6 separate regions of the Homo sapiens genome follow, and regions 2, 3, 4, 5 and 6 are each reported to be linked to region 1. The links are microRNA targets in miRTarBase. Many come from high-throughput screens and were not tested one by one. Region 1 holds a microRNA gene; each other region holds the end of a gene's coding sequence. Distances are from middle to middle.
What was found. The annotated mature microRNA hsa-miR-1290 reads UGGAUUUUUGGAUCAGGGA and lies in region 1 at 2,516-2,534, opposite strand. An mRNA with a match to its seed (bases 2 to 7 or 8) in the 3' UTR can be bound and repressed. Matches are read on the target gene's strand: a 7mer-m8 pairs with bases 2 to 8, a 7mer-A1 pairs with bases 2 to 7 and ends in A, and an 8mer does both.

Region 2: the mRNA of PYGO1 is a reported target of hsa-miR-1290. Seed matches in the 3' UTR shown: 8mer at 1,465-1,472 and 7mer-A1 at 1,666-1,672.
Region 3: miRTarBase lists ADD2 as a target of hsa-miR-1290. Seed matches in the 3' UTR shown: 7mer-m8 at 517-523.
Region 4: miRTarBase lists TOMM20 as a target of hsa-miR-1290. Seed matches in the 3' UTR shown: 7mer-A1 at 1,446-1,452 and 7mer-A1 at 2,273-2,279.
Region 5: the mRNA of PRDX3 is a reported target of hsa-miR-1290. Seed matches in the 3' UTR shown: 7mer-A1 at 1,385-1,391.
Region 6: miRTarBase lists TRPM7 as a target of hsa-miR-1290. Seed matches in the 3' UTR shown: 7mer-m8 at 1,033-1,039.

The regions. Positions count from the first base shown.
Region 1 is chr1:18,894,563-18,898,651 of GRCh38, forward strand. It overlaps MIR1290 (microRNA 1290), which reads right to left and starts at 2,586; the gene lies at 2,509-2,586. All of the region lies in intron 1 of ALDH4A1 (aldehyde dehydrogenase 4 family member A1), which reads right to left.
Region 2 is chr15:55,542,422-55,546,495 of GRCh38, reverse strand. PYGO1 (pygopus family PHD finger 1) reads left to right here. Exons shown (of 3, transcript NM_001367806.1): 3 at 1-4,074. The coding sequence ends at 473. Among named protein-coding and RNA genes, the nearest start is that of DNAAF4, 36 kb to the right of the region's middle.
Region 3 is chr2:70,659,981-70,664,069 of GRCh38, forward strand. ADD2 (adducin 2) reads right to left here. Exons shown (of 16, transcript NM_001617.4): 16 at 1-3,755. The coding sequence ends at 3,445. Among named protein-coding and RNA genes, the nearest start is that of ADD2, 110 kb to the right of the region's middle.
Region 4 is chr1:235,108,619-235,112,702 of GRCh38, reverse strand. TOMM20 (translocase of outer mitochondrial membrane 20) reads left to right here. Exons shown (of 5, transcript NM_014765.3): 5 at 595-3,362. The coding sequence ends at 639. Among named protein-coding and RNA genes, the nearest start is that of SNORA14B, 17 kb to the left of the region's middle.
Region 5 is chr10:119,165,104-119,169,192 of GRCh38, reverse strand. It overlaps PRDX3 (peroxiredoxin 3), which reads left to right. Exons shown (of 7, transcript NM_006793.5): 6 at 1-16; 7 at 660-1,473. The coding sequence ends at 713. It overlaps SFXN4 (sideroflexin 4), which reads left to right and starts at 3,479. Exons shown (of 14, transcript NM_213649.2): 1 at 3,479-3,656. The coding sequence starts at 3,546. RefSeq lists silencers at 3,331-3,800, 3,842-4,028.
Region 6 is chr15:50,558,351-50,562,432 of GRCh38, forward strand. It overlaps TRPM7 (transient receptor potential cation channel subfamily M member 7), which reads right to left. Exons shown (of 39, transcript NM_017672.6): 39 at 1-3,458. The coding sequence ends at 3,328. Among named protein-coding and RNA genes, the nearest start is that of USP50, 14 kb to the left of the region's middle.

The DNA.
Region 1 (4,089 bases):
GTAGCGGCCAGTTCTCCTTTCTCCGTTCCCTCCCAGGAAATGTCAGAGTCAGAGATCCTGCAGGCCTCCCTCCTCCTTCCACAGGGCAGAGGCCCAGATGCCCACTGTGACCTCAGGATCACATGCCCCCACGGCTTTCCCTGTGCCTGGAAGTCTCCAAGCACTGGCCCAGCTGTCCGTCCATCAGTCTGAGTGTGGCCTGGAGAACAGACACTAGTTCAAAGTTCAGCCTGAGTCGACTGCAGCTAAAAATAACCTAAGGACTCCCACCCATCAGTGCTTTCTTTTTTCTTTCTTTCTTTCTTTTTTTTTTTTTTTTTTTTTGGTTCATGAACAATTTTGGGCTAACAGGAGTATCCATCCACTGGCTGCTCGGGTGAAGGCAGAGATGAATCAGTCACAGGACTTGGGGCCTCTCTGAGGATCCATGAGGACCTTCTTGGCAGGACAGCATTCCTCATCCATTCACGCATTTATGCAGTCAGTACACATTTATTCCACATGGCAACGATGCAGAGATAAATTGGATCAGGTCAATAACAGCTCACTCAATTATTCAGCATGCGTTTTCCAAGCACCCAGGAAGTGCCTGGCTCTGGGAGGCAGATATGGATCCAACCCAACCTTTCTCAGAGCAGCCCTCAGTCCTCCCACTTAGGGAAGGCGGCACAAGACAGAGTCTGAATCTGACTCAGGTTTCCCTGAAAATCTGCAGTGCCCTTTCTGCTCATGCCCTGAGCCTGAGACCTCAAGTTGGTCCCCCTCACCCTCTACAAGTGGGATCTAATCTACGAAGGCCATGCACCGTTTCACCTCCTGCACTGGAAGTTGTCAGGGCTACAAATGCTGGGATCTGATCCACGAAGGCCATGTACCGTTTCACCTCCTGCAGCGGGACATGTCAGGGCTGCAAGTACTGGGATCCGATCCATGAAGGCCATGCACCATTTCACCTCCTGTGGCAGGAGATGTCAGGGCTACAAGTACTGAGATATGATCTACAAAGGACATGCACCATTTCACCTCCTGCACCAGATGTCAGGGTTGCAAGTACTGGGATCTGATCTACAAAGGCCAGGCACCATTTCACCTTCTGCACCAGGAGATGTCAGGGTTGCAAGGAGCTGTGGGCCAGCCAATGCAGCTTCAGAAATCTATAGAGGGAAAAACTGAAAAGACACAGAGGGCCCAGACTCCACCTTGCCCAAGACACCTCGTCCGAGGTACTAGTCACTTCAACCTGGACTCACGCCATGCCAGCCCTGCTCCAGTCTCCAAGTCACTCAGGTCCACACCGCAACCAAAGTTAACATGAAAATCTGATCATCAGAGAGATGGCACAGTGGGGAGCTCAGTGAGAAACTACTCAGTGGCTTCTCATTTCTTCTAAAATAAAGACATCAGAATCCTTACCAAGGCCTCCAAATGTATTCCCCATCACCCTGCCCCATTTGGTGCAATCCGGTCACCCCGGTCTCTTCTGGGGTCCTCTCTGCTTGAGATGTCCTCCACTGGTCCAACCTCACATAGCCGGAATGGGGCTCCTATCGGATTCCTCTCATAGCTCTAGACTTTTCTGGAAGCACTAGTGAAAACCCTATTATAGAGCTCTGACTGACCATCTGTGTGCCCGCCAGGCCACAGGCTCCACACAGCCAGCCCGTACCCATCCCATTCACCACCAGGCACCCCAAGCCTAACACACTGACTGGCCACAGTAAGCACCTGAGAAATACAATCAATGCATGAGTGTCAGAGCTGACACCAGGCCCCCAGGACTGGACTCCAAGGCCAGTGCTCTTCTGCTATCACCTGGGGCTGGACACTGGCCCCTTGGGTTCCCCAGTGGCTAAGGTGAGGGGTGGCCAAGGACAAGGAGAGGAGAAATAGAAAGGAAATTATCTTTGCTTCATGCAGCCTCCTGACTTTTCCAGCCATTATCTGGAGCCTGATAAGGCTAATCCTCCCTATCACCGACATAAAGGCAACACTAGGTGAGCAGAGAAAGTGCAGGGCCCAGGGCGGGGCCTGGAGGGAAAGAAAGGCCCAGCCAGGCAAAGTGGCTCACACCTGTAATCCCAACACTTTGGGAGGCTGAGGAGGGTGGATCACTTGAGGTCAGGAGTTTGAGACCAGCCTGGCCAACATGGTGAAACCCCGTCTCTACTAAAAATACAAAAATTAGCTGGACATGGTGGCACATGCCTGTAATCCCATCTACTTGGGAGGCTGAGGAAGAGGAATTGCTTGTACCCGGGAAGAAGAGGTTGGAGTGAGCCAAAATCGTGCCACTGCACTCCAGCCTGGGCAACAGAGTGAGACGATGTCTCAAAAAAAAAAAAAAGAAAGAAAGACCCAATGCCAGGGATGAGCTGCTTCAGCCACTGCCCAGCAAACATCAGGCAACATTTGTCAAGCACTTGCCACCACATGCCAAGCATTAACCTAAGTGAGACAGGATCATCTCACTGAATCCACCACATAAGCGTATGAGGAACGCATGACAAGTTGAGCATCCCTGATCCAAAAATCCAAAATCCGAAATGTTCCAAAATCTGAAACTTTTTGAGTGTCAACGTGACGCTCAAAGGAAATGCTCATTGGAGCATTTTGGACTTTGGAACTTGGGAGTAGGGATGCTCAACTTGTTCGGCAAATTCTCCAAAATCCAAGCAAGTCCAATATACAAAACACTTCCGGCCAGGCGCAGTGGCTCATGCCTATAATCCCAGCGCTTTGGGAGGCGGAAGAGGGCGGATCACTTGAGGTCAGGAGTTCTAGACCAGCCTGGCCAACATGGCAAAACCCCATCTCTACTAAAAGTACAAAAATTAGCTGGACGTGGTGGCGTGTGCCTGTAGTCTCAGCTACTTAGGAGGCTGAGGTAGGAGGATGGCTTGAGCCCAGGAGGTGAAGGTTGCAGTGAGCCAAGATCTGGCCACTATACTCCAGCCTGGGAGGTAGAGCGAGACTCCGTCTCAAAAAAACAAAAACCCAAAAAACGAAACACTCTGTTCTGAAGCATTTCAGATGAGGGACACTCGACCGTAGAATGATCTGTTTACGGATGAGGTTCAGAGTTACTCACTCCTGGCTCAGGGTCACAGCTCATGAGTGACAGAGCAGGATTTGACCCCAGCTGTTCCTTACTCAGGAGACTTACAGTATGGCTGAAGCACCTGGAACATCTCAGAGGCCCATGGTCAGGTGGGGCTGATGGGACACGTTCATCCTCCTCACCATACAGCTAGAACCTCATTTCCACCTGAGGAAAGCCGCCGCCCCAAGGTGGGCAGTGACTTGCCCAAGGTCACTCAGCTGTCCACTGGCACAGCAGCTCAGCCCAGGGACTCTTCACTCCATGCCATGACCTCTGCCAGGAAAGGGAAGGTTTGGGGATTAAGGAGGCTGCAAGAAAGGGAGAAGTCTTTTCCATCCCCTGAGGTGAGCAGGGTCAAAACCCTAACAGAAGGTCGGACGCAGTGGCTCACGCCTATAATCCCAGCACTTTGGGAGGCTGAGGCAGGAGGATCACTTCAGCCCAGGAGGTTGAGATCATCCTGGCCAACATGGTGAAACCCCGTCTCTACGAAAAAAAAAAAATACAAAAATTAGCTGGGTATGGTGATGTGCGCCTGTAGTTCCAGCTACTTGGGAGGCTGAGGTGGGAGGATGACTGAGCCCAGGAGGTTGAGGCTGTAGTGAGCTGAGATCATGACACTGTACTCCAGCCTGGACAACAGAGTGAGACTCTGTCTCCAAAACAAACAAACAAACAAACCAACAATAATAACAGAAGAGGTTTGGCATCTGGGGTACTTAATTGGAATAAACAGAAGAGACCGAGGACATCTGAGTTCCATACCTCCCCTCCTGCCACCATCCTTCACTGCTGGGCCCTGCTGTCTTGATATTCCTGATCGAAGATGATCACTCCAGGAAGCCCATTGGTGGGAGAGGGGGATCATCATAACCACAGCAGCACTTACTGAGCATTTCAGGTGCTGGGCACTCCAAAGTGCTTTCCATGTATGAGACCATTTAACACGCAGGACAATCCTATGAGGTGACTACTACTGTCATCTTTAT
Region 2 (4,074 bases), not on the chromosome of region 1:
ATGACACAGTGAATCAGAGTAATATTGAATTAAAAAATGTTAATCGAAACAATGCAGTAAATCAGGAGAACAGCCGTTCAAGTAGCACTGAAGCCACAAACAATAACCCTGCAAATGGGACGCAGAATAAGCCACGACAACCAAGAGGTGCAGCAGATGCCTGCACCACAGAAAAAAGCAATAAATCCTCTCTTCACCCAAACCGTCATGGCCATTCGTCTTCTGACCCAGTGTATCCTTGTGGAATTTGTACAAACGAGGTGAACGATGATCAGGATGCCATCTTATGTGAGGCCTCTTGTCAGAAATGGTTTCATCGGATCTGTACTGGAATGACTGAAACAGCTTATGGCCTCTTAACTGCAGAAGCATCTGCAGTATGGGGCTGTGATACCTGTATGGCTGACAAAGATGTCCAGTTAATGCGTACTAGAGAAACTTTTGGTCCATCTGCAGTGGGCAGTGATGCTTAATCAAAGGCATTAACTAAAGTGGGTTTATTTTCCTGTGCATTGCAGAAGTTCATTGACACAGGATTTTAATGTTTTACATTATTTTTTTAAATGCATACACAAAAACATTATTTACTTAGTTTTTATTAATCACTTCATCACTAGAGCAAATTTTTTATTGTCTTTGCTTGCTGTCTTAAATGAGAATAATGTATATGGGGGTGCTTTAGAAACATAAATAAATGTTAGTTGTTGTTATTTATCACAAACATAAAAGCCTCTTGAAACTTCAAAATAATATATAACAAATGTAGGCAAGTTTTAACTTTTAAAAGTTAGAATCATTGAAAAACGTGTATTTCAGTGCTGAACTTTGGTTGTACCATATTAAAGATTTAGTTCAAAAAGTTTATCAAGGATCCACTTAACACGTCTTCACAACATAATATATGTAACTGTAACATGGGGGAAAGCATACATTTTTATGGATTAAAAAAATAATAGTATGACACCAGATTCCTCCTCCACTAGGGTCTTTGGAATCAATGAATTTCATATTTCAAGTGAGTTTTCAGGATATCTGTTTGTACAGATACGAGACAGATCTTAGCATATAGTAAATTCTCAGTAAGTATTGTTGATTAACTTGTGGATGGTACCACATGAAATTGCTAATATTAGATCAGTTGAAAATTGACTGCAATTAGTAAAGTTGGTATAACGTACGTTCCCAGTTGTGCTATTTAGAATTATGATAGTATTATGCTCCTACTTTTCTTTGATATTGAGTTGTCTTGTTATTGTTTATTGTTTTCCAGAGAAATACTATAGTATCCACAGAAGAATTGTGAATACTTTTTTATAATTTTGAACTGGGACATATTGCAGATGAGGAAGGTAGAAACATCCATTTGGCCTTAGAGGGCTCTGCTAGTAAAAGAACTACTCAGTGGTGGTTTGAAAAATCTTGTTCTGGGGATCTGAATTTCAAAAATGAACCCTAGGGGAGATCAAAATCCATTTTAAACAAAGATCAATTAAGAGCCAAAGTGAAATCTAACTTGCAAACAACAATTTGAAGCCTTGCAGCAGACTTAAGGAATTCCCGCTCTGACTGGGGAAAAGTATAAAAATGGACCTGAGAGTACCCTCTTGAGGGATGATCAAGAATGGAGACAGTTGGAGTTGTGCTCATTAAGATTCAAAACAGCAGAAATCCATTTTTGGAGCAGATTATAACCTGTGGCCAAAAAAAAAAAATGTGTGCTGTTTGACAGCTAATGGCAATTTATACAATCATTGGAGGCTGGTAAAGCTCCCTAATATGTTGCCACCATTATCATTGCAACCAAAAAAATTCTGAAGATTGTGTGGTGATCTACGAAAGAGATAAATAATTACTGTTATTTAAACCCAAGTGAAACAATGACGGCAGCAGCATATTATCAAGAAATTTAAATTATGCATGAAAATGTGATTTAAAAACAATGTCCTTTGGGTAACACACAAGAACCTACACTTTCACAGACAAGGACTCGACCTCACATGTCACAAGCTACTAAAGCAAAGTTAAGTGACTTGGGCTATGAAATTTTGTCATGTCCATTTTAGTCACTGGACCTTTATTCCATGGACTACTGTCTATCATTTGGAGCTTTTTCTAAGAAACAATGCATTCCCCAATCGAGATGAAGTAACTGGAAGATGTTAACAATTTATACAGCCTAACAAATGATGAATTTTATAAAAGTTAGACCTTTAATATTCTGTTGGAAGAAAACTATTCATGCTCCTGATGCATATTTTGATTGAATAAAACTTATTTTTTTAAATACATTGTTTTAATTTTGACCTACAAAAACAGCAATTTCATATGGTACAAGGTAATACAAGGTTTTCTCCATTTACCCTTGACTAGTTAGAGGTGAGTACAAAATATTTTCAGTAGTTGTAAAATATTTATCTTTACAATTTTAGGAAACAAAATGATATAAACTATACTTCTAGGTACTCCTTTGTGTGAAAACTTTACCAGTTGAAGCAGGTTAAAATGCAGTATTTTGGGCTGACAGGCATTTGATGGTGTTCAGTAGTGTACTTGAAGATCTCATTTTACTTGGATTTTTTATTATACATATTTCTCTAAATGTTTAAGGACCTAGTTATGTTGCTCCTGAAAGTTTAATGAGTGCTGATTTTTAATAAATGATGCACTGTATGCTGTATGCCTAGTTGTAGCATCAGATCATGATTTATTATTACCCTGAATAGAGCTAGATGATAGATATTTTGAGTAGAACTTTCCAGTGTTCTCAGGAGTTAACACTTTACATGGTAGTACTTGAGTTGTGATCATTACTAAAATCAATTATGCAGTTTCTTAAACCCTTTATCTCTTTAAGTTTCAGTAGTTAGCTGTTTTTGTGAAAATGAAATAACTTCTCCCAAGCTAGTCTAAAGGTATGTGTTATGCAATATAATTCATTTTCTATTTCCACATAGTTGTTTTTAAAAACCTACAAACAGGTGAATTTTTATTCAGGTGTTTAGGTCTTCAAAGCACCTTACTTAAATAAGAATCTGTAAATATTCAAAAGAAAAACTCACGGTTCATTCTGATAGTGAATCATAGCCAAACTGTAATCATAGCTGATGAATAGCGTTCATGTGTTTGAATTAATTTTCCTGCTAGTTCTACATTTGTCTCTACATAATGCTAAGTCAAAAGTTATATAGATGCTTTTGGATGGAATAAGTGATGAACTGTAAGAATAGCCAGATGATAATTTGTCTGAAGAAGGCTATTATACAAACTGAAATGGCTTCTTAGGATAAATGATAAGCTGCCTTCAACTTTAAAAATATGCAGTGATGGAAAAAAACACAGGTGGAATTGTACCTTTTTTGGTATAATCCCTTTCCTTCACTGAAAGTCCTCATCTTACACACACACACACACACACACACCCCCCACAGTTTCTCCAACATCCTTGAGTTTTGCTTAAATTCAACCTGGCTAACTATGAGCATCTAGGTTTACTCACCAAAGCTAGGTTATTGACAGAAAGGTGGGTTTTTTTTTGTTTTTTTTGTTTTGTTTTGTTTTGTTTTTGTTTTTTGCCAGTCTTGCTCTGTTGCCCAGGCTGGAGTGCAGTGATGAGATCTCGGCTCACTGCAACGTCTGCCTTCCTGGTTCAAGTGATTCTCCTGCCTCAGCCTCCTGAGTAGCTGGGATTACAGTCGCCCACCATCACACCTGGCTAATTTTTGTATTTTTAGTAGAGACGGGTTCACCATGTTGGCCAGGCTGGTGTCAAACTCCTGACCTCAAGTGATCTGCCCGCCTCAGCCTCCCAAAGTGCTGGGATTACAGGTGTAAGCCACCACGCCTGGCCAGACAGAAAATTTTAAAAAGCATCAGTTCCTTTCTCAGAACTTGACTTGCTCATGCACTAGAGAATTTGTGGTCCACATGCTTCTAGGTGTTACTCGATTCACTAATACTGAAACAGCTCAGCTTGTGAAAGATAAATTGTTCTTCAGACAGAGTGCTTAGAATTAGATTTGTGATCAGTGTTTTCCTTTTGTGTGAAATACTTTAGAGTACTGCTATAATTGTTAT
Region 3 (4,089 bases), not on the chromosome of region 1:
CCTACTGCCCACCAAATCTGAGCTCTTGAATACACATTTTCTCCAGTCAGATATTGGTCAAAGTTTTCAGCCAACTTTTATCCACAGCCAAAGAAAATGGCCTTTCCTTTCTAATAGCCTGTAGATTTGTTTGGACCACATGTCTGTTTCTGTAGCATTTGGTGCATGTCCTCAAGCCTGGAGCTAAATGTGCCACATTCTGTGCAAGGGAAGAAGAAATGGCAGGATGGCTGGACACCTCTCCCAGCAATTCTACACCAAGACAAAATAAAACTGGAAACATTAGCTCTTTGAATGCTCCCCTCTCCTTGTTGAAAATCCCTCTTAAGGTGCTTTATCCAAAGACTTTTATGGAAATAAATTTTGTGTTGGAAACTCACTATCTGCTGTAGAGGAAACATCGTGTAAAGCAGGCCATCAACTATGTTTTAGTATTGACATTTCAAAAAGGCCTCATAGCTCCCATGCCACCATCCCACGCCCATCCAGTCCACAGTCTCCATTCAGCCACCAAAGGGATTTTCCTAAAATGCAATTCTGATCATGACTCTATCCTGATTTAAAGGCTCCAGTGGCTCCAAACCCCTTCCATGACAAGTCTAGCTCCTCCACACTTCCTACCAGTTTCCTTAGGATTCAGCCCTGCCTACCTATGAAGGGACCCCTCAACCCCTGAGCTTCCACATCATGCTCTGGCAATGCCACGTTGCTCAGCGGAACCCATCATGGCATTTCATGCGTCCACACCTTTGCACATTCTTCCCTCATTGTGGCATGCCCTGCCAATCCTTTCATTCTACTGGAAATTTACTCTTTGTTTTAAAACCTTAGCAGCCATTGCTTCTCTCAGGGTTTCTCTGGTCCCCAAGATAGTTAATTGATGCTTTCTTATGCCACCTTGGTACCCTTGCCTGTTTTGCAATTTGTCTATACACCTCCTATGCTCATGAACTTCTTGAGGGCAGGAACTATGCCTATCCTCATGCCTGGCCCTTGACCCAAGCTCAATGCATGTTTTTGGAATGCATGAGGAATGAACCAACTGACAGGTTCATCTATCAATAGAAAGTGGGCCCATGGCATAAATTCCCAGAATAATGCTGCAGCAAGACTCCACCCAATGAGGCCTAAGTGAGGCCTCATTGTCAAGGGAATAGAGTGTGTTGAATGCAGAGGCAATCAACATCACCCCCGAAGTAGAACAACTCGCACACAAAAGGCTGCATCAGAGGTCGTGTTCACCATTCTCACAACATCGTTTGCCACTTATTATTCTAGTCATAATGATGGCTCTCTTTCAACGTCAGCATAATGCCTGGTGCTCAGTGGATCCTTAACAAATACCATGTAAGGATAAATGAATAAGTGTGAAATCTACTTTTTAAAAGAAGGCATCAAGGGATTGGCTTTTAAAGGCATTTCCCATATGACAGATTTTTCTGAGGCATGAGTGGGTTGTCCCTCCTAAAATTTGACCCAATCAGGAAGTAGAACAGAGATGGAGCCTGGGGTAGCAGTTAGGAATCTGCACTAGAGAGACACAGTGTCAGGTTTACCTTGGTCCTAGGTCAGTTTCCTTCCTTCTCAAGAAATAGCCAACTATGGATGGTATTTCCCGCCCCAACCAGAAGGCTCTTGCCTCTCCTTTGTCAGAGGCACACAGTAGCATCACCACAGTCCACATTGACCAGGAACTTCACGTGCAGTGATGAGGATGAGCACAGGGTGTTCCCTACCTTTGCTTCACGTGCTAACATTATGCAATGGAGAACAGTCATAGAGACAAATCCTGGATGAAAACCACCACCCCTGGGGATTAAAGTTGTCTGTTCACCATAGCTGTTAAGAGCAAGGGCTCTGGACTCAGACTGACCTGGATTCAAATCCAGGATCCAGATCTTTCTAGCCAAGTCAGCTGGGACAAGTCAATTATCATTTTAGGGGGTCAATTTCCTCACCCACAAAATGGGAATGATCTTACCCCCCTCAAAGGATTACTGTGAGGGTTAAAGAATGTAATGTATGTGAAGCCTGCACAGTGTCTATAGATAGCAAGTGCTCAAAAGTGGAAAACTATGATTAAGAACTTTCAAAAATATTTTCACGATAGTCAGATCAAAAGGAAAAATATTCTTTCAAGACACGGTGCTTTCAAGAGAATGGATTGTCTAATTTTTAGGAGCCAACAAATGCTCATTAATCAATGCCCCACGGAAGAACATGAGAAGACAGTGTTGGCATTTAAAACAATAACTGTGGCCATTACCAGGCCCCAGGATGGACAGATAGGGACAAGGACAGGGATACCCAGCATTTCTCTGAGAGCTGGTGCAAGAGGATTAATCCTGAAGGGCTCATTTCTGATTCTCCTCTGCTGGACAAAGAATGACTGAGTTGGAACCTCAGAGGGTGCAAGTCAAGGTGCCAAGAGTAAGATGCCAGTTTCGGTCTGTAAGCAAGTGTTTCTGGGGGTGAGGGAAGGTCAGGGGAAACCTGACCACTGGACAGGAGTGAGGCAGGTACAGTGCATTGCTCCAGGTGTCATGCAAAGCTAGAAAGTCAGCATTTCCTCTGTTGTTTTGATCCTCCTTATACAACCCAAAGCCAACAGAGGATTTCAACTTCCCCAAATTTCTGCCCTGAGCATTAAACAACTTTTTCCTATGCTAAATTTGGTTTTAGTTTTGAAGTGCCTGAGATGCACAATTCAAAGGGGTCAAGTTCCTGGCCTCTTATGTTGATGAAACCATCCCCAATCCTCAGCTTACATGGCTTGCCCCTATGCCTACCACCTCTTATAGCTCTTCCATCCATCATTCAAGAGGTTCCATGAAGAAAGCTCAGGGTTAATGTTTGGGGTAGTACAAGCTAAGCCATCAGCCCTTGGGAACAAAGATTACTTTCTGTTGGAGGGGTCAATTTGGCTAGTCACTTTGAGCAGCAGGGCAGGGACCCAAAGTGGAAAAGAGAAGAGATTTTTAAATGTAGAGATAGCTCCATCCACAGGAGATTGGATTCCTGGGAAGAAATGGACCTTACTCAGGGGAAGCCTTGACCTCTGATTTAGTCTGAGCCTGTGAGAGCTCACGGCCCATTTCTGGCCTTCTTGCCCTAGGCTCAGATTGGTGGACAGCATCCAAACAAAGGCAGCCCACAACTAGGCAGTGTTGTGTAGTAGAAGGAGCACTGGACTGGAAGTCAGGAGACCTGAATTCGAGTGCAGGCTCTGCCGCTAACTAGCTGTGTGACCTTGGGCAAGTCACCTGATTTCTCTTGGGCAACTGTAAAACGAAGGGTTGGTCGGGTGATCTCTAAGTTCCCCTTCCGAATGTGGTCCAGGGTCCTACTCTATCCCTCCTTAGCCCTGTGCTTGCAGGGACAGAGATGGGAGAAGGGAAGGGGAGGAGAGAGAGGAGGCAGGAGGGAGCCCAAGGGTGTCATGAATCAGGACTCCACTTTCTCCTTCTTTTTGCTCTTTTTCAGGAAGGAGGGGGTTCGGAATTTCTTTTTCTTCTTTGAGGGAGACTTGGAAGGTGAGCCCTCTGGGGACATGGGGCCGCTGGTGACCGACTCGGTTTTGTCCTTAGAGGTATCAACATCCGTGTCAGCACTGGTGGTCATCTGGCTCAGGCCTTTGCTGAGGATTTCCTCTGCCGTCTGCTCCTCCTCCCTCCCGTTGACCACCACCCCTTCCGGCTGGGTTGTTTCGGGCTCTGTGGTGGCGGCTTTGCTTGTTTCTGTCTTCTTAGTACCTTCTAGAAAAAGATCAAAAGATATGACCTGTAAGATTTCATTCAGGTGACAGCTTCCACCTGGGGCTAACAGAACCATTTCTAGGGAATTCTATAAAATCAATCCAGAGCGAGGGGAGGGCCAGCCTGATGTTGAGGGATGGCTACCAGAGACAGATGGAAGGACTGGGTTCTGATCTGCACCTTCCATGTGGCCTGTCCTGGGAACACCCCCTTGCAGGCTGGCAGCTCTGGGCTCTTGTCTATGAATTTAGATGGATATTAATGTCTGAAGTGGCAGGAGGCCCGGCTGGGGTCCAGCTCAGAGTTTTTCTAGGCAAGAAAGAAGAAACAGACA
Region 4 (4,084 bases), 220 Mb from region 1:
TTTGCCTGGGAGTGAAAAGAGATCTTAAAATCTTTTTGGTTTTAGTTACATAATTGACTGATGTAATATTATGTAATGATGGCTGTACACAGTGTCTCATGCCCTATAATCCTAGCACTCATTTGAGCTCAGGAGTTCAAGGCCAGCCTGGGCAACATGGTAAAACCCTGTCTGCACCAAAAATAAAAAAAAAATTAGCCGGGCATGGTGGCATGAGTCTGTGGTTCCAGCTACTCAGGAGGCTGAGGTGGGGGAGGATCGCTTGAGCCCAGGAGTCAGAGGTTGCAGTGAGCTGAGATTGTGCTACTGCACTCCAGCCTGGGTTACAGAGACCCCATCTGAATTAAAAACATATATAATGTAATGATCTGCCTCCTTTGTTAACTTGACTTTTGAAATGGGATTGTCAGTAGTATGATCATTGTTTTCTTGGATGCCGACTGTGTGTAAAGTGTTACATTTTGAATTAAATGTCAGAATGGGTGAACTTTACTAAGATTCAATTCTTTGAATACAAAGAGCATTTTATTTTGAAGTTAGAATCCTAATTAAATGCTTATGACACTTTAAAAAATTATTTTTTTTTTCTTTCAGAGAATTGTAAGTGCTCAGAGCTTGGCTGAAGATGATGTGGAATGAGAAACAAATGTCAACATAATAAAATCTCAGTTAAAAATATTTTAAAAATTCTTGGTAGTTGAGCAGCTCTGGGGGAATAAGGGCAAATATGCTTGTTATGAACTACACTGAAATCTACCAAAGTTAATGTTTACTTTGTGTAGATCCATTTGTCTATTTTATTTATTTTTCCCAGTGAAAAGTGTATTTTGATAGAGAACTTTTCATTCTATAAATACACTATGAGTTACTAAAATATCATGGATTTTGTTTATTCCTGAAACATAGTTACATAGTTAAACTGTACATATGACATGGCTTATGTTAAAAATACCCAGTGCTCAGTTTTGAAAGATAGGCAAAAAAAAAAAAGTATAGGAGAAACTGAAGAATGTACACTTTTTTAGAGGGCACATTTTGCTGTAAATCTGGAAATTTGATAGACTTGACTGTGTTTGTGAAAACTGAGCATTAAAGGTTTTGATTGATCCTTTCTTTCCATTTAATCTCTGAGACGTAAATATGTGAGGTGTGCTGCTGTGCTGGGTTAACAGCTTCCTTCCCTTTCTGTGTAGCAGTCTTGAAATGTTCTGTTTAAATCAGTAGGCTTAATGTGTTCTGGGTATTTATCTCCTTGTATTTTAAATATATGTAGTTGCAAATAGCACCAGGAATTAGATTTCTGTACACCCCTAATCTAGCCTTGTGAGCTTCGCTAGTTAATGTGTGCTCACTTTCCCTCCATTTGTTACGTGAGAGAATGCGTCTGCTGATCACTGAAGTGTCCCTTTTAGCTTCTGATTCATTGGGTTCTGTTGGGCATCTTTAAATCCACCTTAACCTGAGGAATGTATGTGGGCAACCAGGCCCTGCATTTTTTTATATTCTGAATTTTGCATGCTTGCCTGACTTAGTATTTCTGAATTGATGTTTTTTTTAATGGTATAACTATCTTGATTTTCACTGAAATTATATGGTTCTGTCACTACTCTGTAAATTAATCCGAAACTTTTAAGGTAACTGGGATGATCTGCTTGTAAAAATGCTTGTTGCCTTTTGCTTTATCTTCAGTGTACCTCCTTAATCCTGCTTCAACTTGATTATCTTGTGAAACGATGAGAGTAAGTTGCAACCTTGTGACTGAAAACTTGAAAAGAGTGGAGCAGGTGGGACCTCTTATTCTCAAATAGTGACATATTCTCCGTAGTCACAGTTTCAGAACTGAGTAAGGATCCTTGGTACTTGGTGGCATCTGTTGAACTGAGGAGCATTTCTCATTGTAAAGATTGCCTTTGTTCTGTCTAAAAGTCTGGAGAAATCCCAAAGACTTTTCCTATGTACTAGGCATTTTATTTTGATTGACTTACAAACTCTTCTTAATCATTATCAATCTCGGTTTTTTTGTGGTGCAGTGGAAGGAGAAATAGGTCTAGTTTCTGCCTCTGATTAGCCGCACAGCCTTGAACAAATCACATTTCATCTTTGAACTTACCTCTACTGTTAGACTAGGCGACTCACATTTGAGGACTTTTCTCGGGTATCTTGAGGGTTTGTGATCCTGAACCCTTAAACAGTGCTTTTTTGTTACACAGGAGGGCTTTTTTGGGGGGATGACCAGTACAGACATGCCAGTTAGTTTTACTAGTGGGATCCCAAATCCAAAGCAGTGTAGTGGTGATTGGTCAGTGACTAACCAGGCAGCTAAGAAGTCTTAGGCAGCAGCCCAGACATGTATAGAGGGGCAGTTAGAGGGAGAACAGGGGTGGGAAAGGGAGCAAGGGGCAGATAGCTCAGCAAGGAAAGAATGGGCTCAGAAAAAGGAGGGCTGGCTGGAGGAGTGAGGGGCAGCTTAAGTTTGGGGAGGGTAGAAACGCCGTTTCCTTGGGAACTGGAGTGCAGTATGAGCTGGGTGTCACTTGGCTCTGAACATACTGGCTTTGCTGTAATGCTTGAAAAGGCGTTGGTATCTTCATTTTACAGTTCATTAACCCAAGTACGTTTTCTTATTTAAATGACAACTTTGGTGCTTTAAAATGAGGTACCACTTTTTAAAGCTAGCTGTGTCGAGTTAAAGAAAAAATCAGCAGTTTTTTCTCCCAGAAATGTAATTGCCAAACACTATTCATCCCCATCTTAAGTTTTACAAGGTGATGTAATCAGCTTGTTGTAGTGATGCTGGCCAAATGGTGCTCAGCAGGTGAGAACAAAAAAACCCCAGATCTCAGTGAACTAATACACAGCTTGAGCGTTTCCATGTGCTAATGTTGCACACTTACTAAAAAACTTTGGAAATGGAAAATAATGTATTAGTGCAACAGTTGATGTGCTTCTTTGGGCAAAGATATAGTTTTGTTCCACAATTTGTACTTAAAAGCGAAAGAACATTGAAAACATAGACTTACTGGCTGTAGCAATGCTGGCCTGTTAACTGATAACTAGAACTTAGGTTCACGTTTATGTAAAGTGTGTAAAACCTAGTAGAGCTTGCATAGTCGGCACTCAGTAAATGTTTGGTTCCTTTTGCCCCTTGGTAAGTTTATTTTACCATCCTCCCACCTGCCATTCTGACTTTATTAAATCAACATGTGGACCAGAGTGTTAATGAGATGTTATTGCAGAAGAGATTGAGAAAATTGGTATATCATGCAGATAACATACAAAATCTTTTTGTAACGTAAAAAATGCAGTTTTATTATTGCTTGTGCCTCAACTGTTTAAGTGAATATTAAAGGGCTTGGAGAAAACTTTGGCTTGGCGTATGTTTGGAGAAGTGAACTCTGCTGAATTTATTGAGTCTAAAGCTGTGGGTTTTTTGTTGTTAACGTCTTTGAGGATGTCTAGGGCCGCAGGCTTCCCTGCCAGAAGAATGCACATTTGCTTCAGATTCCAGGTGAAGAAAATCCCTGTGGTAGTGTCAGCGCCTGAGGGCTTCCAGGTGGTGGTGGGCCCAGCGTCAGGAGATAGCAGTCACCTGGGAGGCCCGTTACAACAGGTTCGTGAGAGGAGCCCAGTGGTGGTGGTGCTGACGTGCGAAACATGAAGGCTTGTTAGAGAAACCAGCTGTGTTAAGGTGACAGAATGTGTACGTTAGCACTGTAAAAAGCAGCTAATTGGTAGCAGAACGTGCTAGCTGAGAATACGTTGTATTCTACATCACTGATAATGATCTGAAGTGTACAAGTCATCAGTATCAGATCTATGAGAGTTTTTGTAGTTTTGCTCTAACATAAATTTCTCTTTGCCACCTCCAAAGTTATTATATTAATAGTAAAAGTAATGCTTTGGAGAGGGTGGAAGGGGGTATGCCCTAGCCTCCACAGCTCCTGCCACAAACTGCCCAGATAAGCAGGACCTGAGTGTGTTGAAAGGCTGAGTTGAAGAGCAGATTGACACAGGAGGGCTGGAATGAACGTTGGCTAGAGCAGGTGTGTCCAATCTTTTGGTTTCCCTGGGCCACACTGGAAGA
Region 5 (4,089 bases), not on the chromosome of region 1:
ACCGGATTCTCCTACGGTAGGTTTTTTTCCCCAAAAGCAGTGAGGTCCATGTTCTCTCAGCCTCGAGAGCTATTGACCTGAAATATCCACAAAAGGGAGCCCACTCTTGAAGCAAGCGTGCAGATGATATGCAAATGGGTGAAGCTGCTGTGGGGTAGAGGGGGTGGGGTGGGGAGCCAGGAACCAATTATCAGAGACAGGCAGGCCTTTTTTTTTTTTTTTGAGACGGAGTCTTGCTCTCGCCCAGGCTGGAGTGCAGTGGCGCTCTCTCAGCTCACTGCAAGCTCCGCCTCCTGGGTTCACGCCATTGTCCTGCCTCAGCCTCCTGAGTAGCTGGGACTACAGGGCGCCCACCACCACGGCTAATTTTTTGAATTTTAGTAGAGACGGGGTTTCACCGTGTTAGCCAGGATGGTCTGGATCTCCTGACCTCGTGATCCACCCGCCTTGGCCTCCCAAAGTGCTGGGATTACCGGCGTGAGCCACCGTGCCCGGCCTAGAGACAGGCAGGCCTTAATGAAACTTTCATCTTTATGTTTTAAAGGAAATCTTTAAAAGTTTAAAGAACTTTAGGTTAAAAATTGGGAGATTGCCACTCACTTTTGGGACTATTATTATGGTAAAGTCACAGTTACCTAATTAAGCTTTTGTATTTTCAGATCAAGCCAAGTCCAGCTGCTTCCAAAGAGTACTTTCAGAAGGTAAATCAGTAGATCACCCATGTGTATCTGCACCTTCTCAACTGAGAGAAGAACCACAGTTGAAACCTGCTTTTATCATTTTCAAGATGGTTATTTGTAGAAGGCAAGGAACCAATTATGCTTGTATTCATAAGTATTACTCTAAATGTTTTGTTTTTGTAATTCTGGCTAAGACCTTTTAAACATGGTTAGTTGCTAGTACAAGGAATCCTTTATTGGTAACATCTTGGTGGCTGGCTAGCTAGTTTCTACAGAACATAATTTGCCTCTATAGAAGGCTATTCTTAGATCATGTCTCAATGGAAACACTCTTCTTTCTTAGCCTTACTTGAATCTTGCCTATAATAAAGTAGAGCAACACACATTGAAAGCTTCTGATCAACGGTCCTGAAATTTTCATCTTGAATGTCTTTGTATTAAACTGAATTTTCTTTTAAGCTAACAAAGATCATAATTTTCAATGATTAGCCGTGTAACTCCTGCAATGAATGTTTATGTGATTGAAGCAAATGTGAATCGTATTATTTTAAAAAGTGGCAGAGTGACTTAACTGATCATGCATGATCCCTCATCCCTGAAATTGAGTTTATGTAGTCATTTTACTTATTTTATTCATTAGCTAACTTTGTCTATGTATATTTCTAGATATTGATTAGTGTAATCGATTATAAAGGATATTTATCAAATCCAGGGATTGCATTTTGAAATTATAATTATTTTCTTTGCTGAAGTATTCATTGTAAAACATACAAAATAAACATATTTTAAAACATTTGCATTTTACCACCAGTAACTGTTGGATCAGCTTATTTTGGGCTCTCCTTTCCTTCTCAGATTATCAACAAACATTTATTGAGCATTTACCTCAGGGGCCACAAAGAGAATAAGATGCTGGTTCCGCACTCAAGGAACTCGGTTTAGGGGCAAGACAGATAGGGAAACATTTTCTCGTTGTTTCAGTAAATCCTTGAGTGCCTACCCCGCACCAGGTGCTGTTTTCCAGGCACAAGAGCGAACAACGGACAAACCCCTGCTTTTAAGCTCTTACATTCTAGAGGGGAAACACCTCATACATGTAGTAAAAGTAGAGTGTTTGGAAGGAAAATAATGTGGAGTGAAACTGCTGAAGCGGAGTTGTAGGTGTTCTAGATGGGGTTGTCAAGGAAGGCCTTAAGGGAGAGCCTCTCTGGATCAATTTTCTCATTGTAAAATGAGGACAATAATTGTACTTATCTCAGGGTTTTGATGAGCATCGAGGGAGAGAAAACGCGTAGAAAGTGAGAGTATTACGGGGATAAGAGACTTCTAGGCAGAGGGCAGGGAAAACACAAAGGCCGTGAGGCAAGAGTGGGCTCAGAGCGGATGCAGATTTACTAGGAGGCCGGTGACTATGGCTGTGGTGGGGGTCCCAGAGTGCCTTTTGGCCAGGCCAAGGACTTTAGGTTCTGTTCTGGGGTGGGGAATGTCAGGAAGGATTTGAAAAGAAGAGTGACATCAACTTGTTCTAAGAGAATCACTCTGGCTCCTTTGTTAAGACGACATAGCAGTCCAAAGTGGGGAAGCAGGCCAGCGGGCTGGCTTTGTGACATCCTGGAGGGTAGAGACAACAGAATAGAACAGCACGCTACATACTGCACTGGTGCTTAGATGGATTTCTGCGGCATAAGGGTAGAAGTGGAGGGGGCACCTTACTCAACTCGGAGGGTCAGGGAAGGCTTCCTGGAAGAGGAGATAAACCCCTGGAGGTTAAGAAAAGTGAGCTAGGCAAACTGAGCAAATACAGAAGCAGAGTCATACAGGCCTGAAGGACGCCATGAGCCAATTTCCTGTTCCTGGAGGCGCAGGGCAAGGGAAGGAATTGGCCCGCTGGAGGTTAATGGCCAATACTGAGCACTTCTGAGGGCTCAGTGCTGTGTTAGGGATGTTTTATCTCCTTTGATCAGAAACAAAACCCTGAGATAGGTACAATTGTTATCCTCATTTTGCGGATGGGAAAATAGACTTCGAGATACTGACTTGGCGAGGGTCACACAACTAGATGATGTGCTGGGTCCCCCAGTCCTGGACTCCGGAGGCCCCCTGAACGACCTAGGCACACTTGTGGCTTCCGTGAATTTAAGTGCACACAGCCCCCGCCTGGCCCTGTGCTGGGGAAGGGCAGGTGGGAGGAGGAAGGGAAGGCAGGTTTTTCTTTACAAATGGTACCTATTTGGTAGTCAACAAAAGGAACTGGATTTGCCCCAACACTGGAAGAAAAAAAAAAACAACCTGTTGGGCTGAGGGATAGTGCACTGTGCCCAGGGCCCTATACTTGGTTTGATGCTCTGGTGTTACTCTCTTGAAATTCTCAGTAACATGAATAAGGGGCACCGCATTTGACATTTTCCCTGGGCTGAGACCATGATGCAGCCGGCCTGACTGCGCAACACCATGCACACTGGAATTCGTGGGCCATCGGAGGGATTTTCGAGGGTAATGACCAGGGGTAGGGCGCGGCAGAAGCGCAGGGTGAGGTTGCGGACGGCCTCACTCACAACCTTTCCGGGTCTTCGCATTAGGTACTGTGATGACGGGTTCCGATAGTGACCCCTTGGGGCCTGGAGACGGCCCGGCTCCCCAAAGGTGCGGAGCAGGGCAAGCAGGGTTGGGAGGACGTGGCCCGTGGGAGAGCTGCGCTCGCCGGAACAGTGGGCGCGCAAGGGCCCCGAGGCGCTGTGACACGGGACGTCGGGCGCGCGGGCCTGGGGCGGGAACTGCGGGTGCGCGCGGCCCGGGGCGGGGCTCGCCGCCCGGCTCCTCCTCCACGCGCGGCCTGGCGGCGGCGGCCACTCTAACCAGCGCAAAATGTCCCTGGAACAGGAGGAGGAAACGCAACCTGGGCGGCTCCTAGGACGCAGAGACGCCGTCCCCGCCTTCATTGAGCCCAACGTGCGCTTCTGGATCACCGAGCGCCAAGTACGGCCCGGGCCCGGCGCGACTAGGGGCAGGGAGGGGGCGGGCCGGGCCGCGTGGAGTCGGGCTGACCCGGGTGACCTTGGCCAGGCCACGTGGGCGCCCCCTGTCTCCGTTTCCTCCTCTCGGAGTTGTGCCGGGAACGCGCACCACCGGCCTTCACCCCTTAGGGCGCGGCAGGGGACGCAGGGGAAATCGAAGCTGCCAGATGCCCACGACCACAACGTCACCCTCCAGATTGCCCTCTCGGAGGGGCCCAGTCCGCGCAGGTGGCTGCTCCCTACTGCCTGAGCTGTGGCTGAGCAGCAGATTGGGGAGAAACAGGCTCTCGCACCTTGGTAAGCTCAGCCACTTTCGGTGAGACCCCCGAGGCTTTGGGAAGCCACCCTTGGGCAGGACATAAGCAGGACTTATCTCCCTGCAGCGTCTAGGGCAG
Region 6 (4,082 bases), not on the chromosome of region 1:
GTGGGCAACAAGGCTAGACCCCATCTCTACAAAATATATATTTAAAATTAGTTGGGTGTTACCCAGGCATGGTGGCTCACACCTATAATCCCAGTACTTTGGGTAGCCGGGGGAGGTGGATCACTTGAGGTCAGGAGTTTGAGATCAGCCTGGCCAACAAGGTGAAACCTTGTCTCTACGAAAAATACAAAAATCAGCCAGGCATTATGGTGGGTACCTGTAATCTCAGCTACTTTGGAGGCTGAAGCACGAGAATTGCTTGATCTTGGGAGGCAGAGGTTGCAGTGAGCCAAGATTGTGCCACTGTACTCCGGCCTGGGCAACAGAGTGAGACTTCAACTCAAAAAAACAAAAATAAATAAAAATGAAAAATAAAAAAATATATATATAAAATTAGGTACGTGTGGTGGTGCATGCCTGTGGTTCCACCTAATCAAGAGGCAGTGGCAGGAGGATTGCTTGAGCCCAGGAGTTTACGGCTGCAGTGAGCTATGATCACGCTACTACACTCCAGCCTGGGCAACAGAGCAAGAGGTTGTCTTTTTTTTTTTTTTCTTTCTGAGACAGGATCTCACTCTGTTGCCCAGGTTGGAAAGCAGTGGCATGATCTCAGCTCACTGCTGCCTCAGTCTCCCAGGCTCAAGTGATCCTCCCACCTCAGTCTCCCAAGTAGCTGGAACTACAGGTGCACACCATCACATCCAGTTATTTTTTTTTTTTTGACGGAGTCTCGCACTGTTGCCCAGGCTGGAGCGCAATGGCACGATCTCAGCTCACTGCAACCTCCACCTCCCAGGTTCAAGCAATTCTCCTGCCTCAGACTCCTGAGTAGCTGGGATTACAGGCACTCACCGCCATGCCCAGCTAATTTTTTGTATTTTTAGTAGAGACGGGGTTTCACTATGTTGGTCAGGCTGGTCTCGAACTCCTGACCTTGTGATCCGCCCACCTTGGCCTCCCAAAGTGCTGGGATTACAGGCATGAGCCACTGCACCTGGCCTAATTTTTGTATTTTTTTTTTTAGCAGAGATAGGATTTTGCCATGTTGCCCAGGCTGGTCTCAAACTCCTGAGCCCAAGTGATCCACCTGCCTTGGCCTCCCGAAGTGCTGGGATTACAGGCATGAGCCACCATGCCCCACCAAGACAAACAAAACAAAACAAAACAAAACAAAACAAAACAAAAACAGTATAGATGAAAGGCAGCCAGCCTGGGTTCAAATCCTACCGTTGCTACTTATTATTAAATAAACGTAAGAATCTTATGGACGTTACTTTACCTCTCTAGCACCTTGACTTTCAAATCTGCAAAACAGGATAATAACACCTATTTCTTTATAACATTGTTATAAGGATTAAGTAGGTTAATATATGTGAAATACTTAGAGTAATGTCTGGTACACAGTAGGCACTAAATAAGTGTTAGCAGCCAGGTGCGGTGGCTCACAAGGTCAGGAGTTTGTGACCACACTGGCCAACATAGTGAAACCCTGTCTCTACTAAAAATATAAAAATTAGCTGGGCATGGTGGCGTGTGCCTGTAGTCCCAGCTACTCGGGAGGCTGAGGCAGGAGAATCACTTAAACCCGGAAGGCGGCGGTTGTGGTGAGCTGAGATCGCACCACTGCACTCCAGCCCAAGCAACAGAGCGAGACTCCGTCTCAAAAAAAAAAAAAAAAAAAAAAGTATAGCTACTATTATAATCCTGTGAAAATAATCAATATAAAATTAAAAATCAACAGACAGCCCATATTGCCCTTTTTTGGCCTAACAAAAAACAGATTTCTAAGAAGACAGTAAGAAATCAGTATTAATTTAAACATTGTACAGGACAGGAGATCAAAAGCACAGGTATACAAATGGTTCATTTAAAAAAACTGATACTCAAATTGACACCCTGAAAATGTCAGATAATTTTTCAGAATGATTAAACTCACTAAACATCTGTAAACAATAAATTTATTTCATTTCTTTTAAAGATTTAATGATATACAAAACGTATATAGTATCTTTAAGTAATACACTTTTTCTTTCTCCCCACCCCCAATCAATATTAAACACTATTTAAACAGCTTATCATCTCTTGCCTTGTCTGTATCTATGAGATACACTACTAAATACAAATAAGCTTTATACTGCTCCCTTCCAAATAAAAATTAAAATTAGTACCAAGGAAACAAAAGAAAAAGAAAAAAAAAGAAAAAAAATTAAAGCATAAAACTTAGATGAAAAGCTTTTCTTGTTATTGTTGAATATTCAACAATATCTGGGGCTGTTAAATTACATTTTATTGGCATAAGGTTGCACTGCAATCTGCCAGTATCACATAATGATAATCCAACTGAATTAATTTCTTAAGTACCACAAACAGCATTCATGTTCAAATGTTCCAACACAATTTTAAATATATGCAAGAGTTCATGTTTACATTCTGATTTGATATAACAATCAATAAAATCTTTGGAGAAGTTTGTAAGTTCTGGGTTGTTGCTATAGATACAGATAGGGAAAAAAGTACTTTAACTTTCCTCAAAAGGTAACTTCCCTTGACGAGTGAGTTAGGTTTCTGCTTTTATAATTTAGGTTATGTATCAGTTTACCATGGCTTTCTTCTACTTAACAGTGACTTGATAAAACAATGTTTAAAAAACCCAATTAACATTTTTACACAATTTGGGTTCTATTTAAAAAAAAAAACTGGCTCTATCTTTAAATATGGAGCCTAACCCTGATTCATAAATACCGTCCCTCTTGAAAATGGTCTTCAGTTCAGGCTTCTCATACCTCTGTGAACCTAGAATTAGAACAAGTCATTTCCCTTCCCGTGGCCAACAAGCATCTAGTTGGGAACCAGTGATATCATCACTGAACACACTAAATACACTGAGGAAAATTTTGACTGCCATTTAACCAAAAGGCTGCGTGATTTCTTCATTTCCCTAGTTGAATGGCAATAAAACAGCTGCCAATAAAATCTGCATGGACACCTACCTTTGGTTAATGGTATTGTACCACATAAGAGAGAGCATCACCCTCATCAAAACAAAGTCAAATGAGATCCTCTGCTATACAAAGAGCCCTTTAAAAAGTTATAAATACTAATTATCAATTACCTTTAAAATTTCTCAGCTGCCAGCTCTATCCTATAGGGACTTTCTGACTGATTAATCAGGTCAAAAGAATATTGACCTTTTAACTGTGCTGGAGTCAGCAAATTCAACTTGCATACACCTTTCTATATTACCAAACAATTTCCTCCCGAGGGAAAAGTGACACAGTAACATTTCTGTGAGGTGCAGGCAAAACCAATGATTCAGTAATATTAATATTATAACATCAGACGAACAGAATTAGTTGATTCTGATTCTTTGGTGGAATTTCCAGGCTGAAGATTCAAATCTGAAGGCTCATCCTGAGGAAATATAATTTTATCAGGCGTATAATCATTCCTCTTCAGATCTACATTGAACACCCACAACAATTAAAAAAAAAAAAGAAAGAGAAAAGAAAAAAGTTAGTATTTCTTAGAAATGGAGAATTAGGAACCTTTTATTTTCTTTTCAAGACGGAGTTTCGCTCTTGTTGCCCAAGCTGGAGTGCAATGGCGCGATCTCGGTTCACTGCAACCTCCACCTCCCGGGTTCAAGCGATTCTCCTACCTCAGCCTCCCAAATAGCTGGGATTACAGGCATGCACCACCATGCCCGGCTAATTTTTTGTATTTTTAGTAGAGACAGGGTTTCACCATGTTGGTCAGGCTGGTCTTGAACTCCCGTCCTCAGGTGATCCACCTGCCTCGGCCTCCCAAAGTGCTGGGATTATAGGTGTGAGCCACCATGCCCGGCTGAATTAGGATCATTTCTAATCAATTTTTCTCCAAACATGTCAGACTTGTTTTCCATCAGGTTGTTATAAATTCAGTAGTCACCAAATTTATACACATAAAAATGAAGTCATTCATTCATTCAACAAATAATTACATATTGACCATGAGTCAGAAACTCATGTAGGCGTGGGAATGTAGCAGTGAACAAACCAGACAAGCTCACTGGTCTCAGTGAGCTTATATTCTAGTGGGTGACA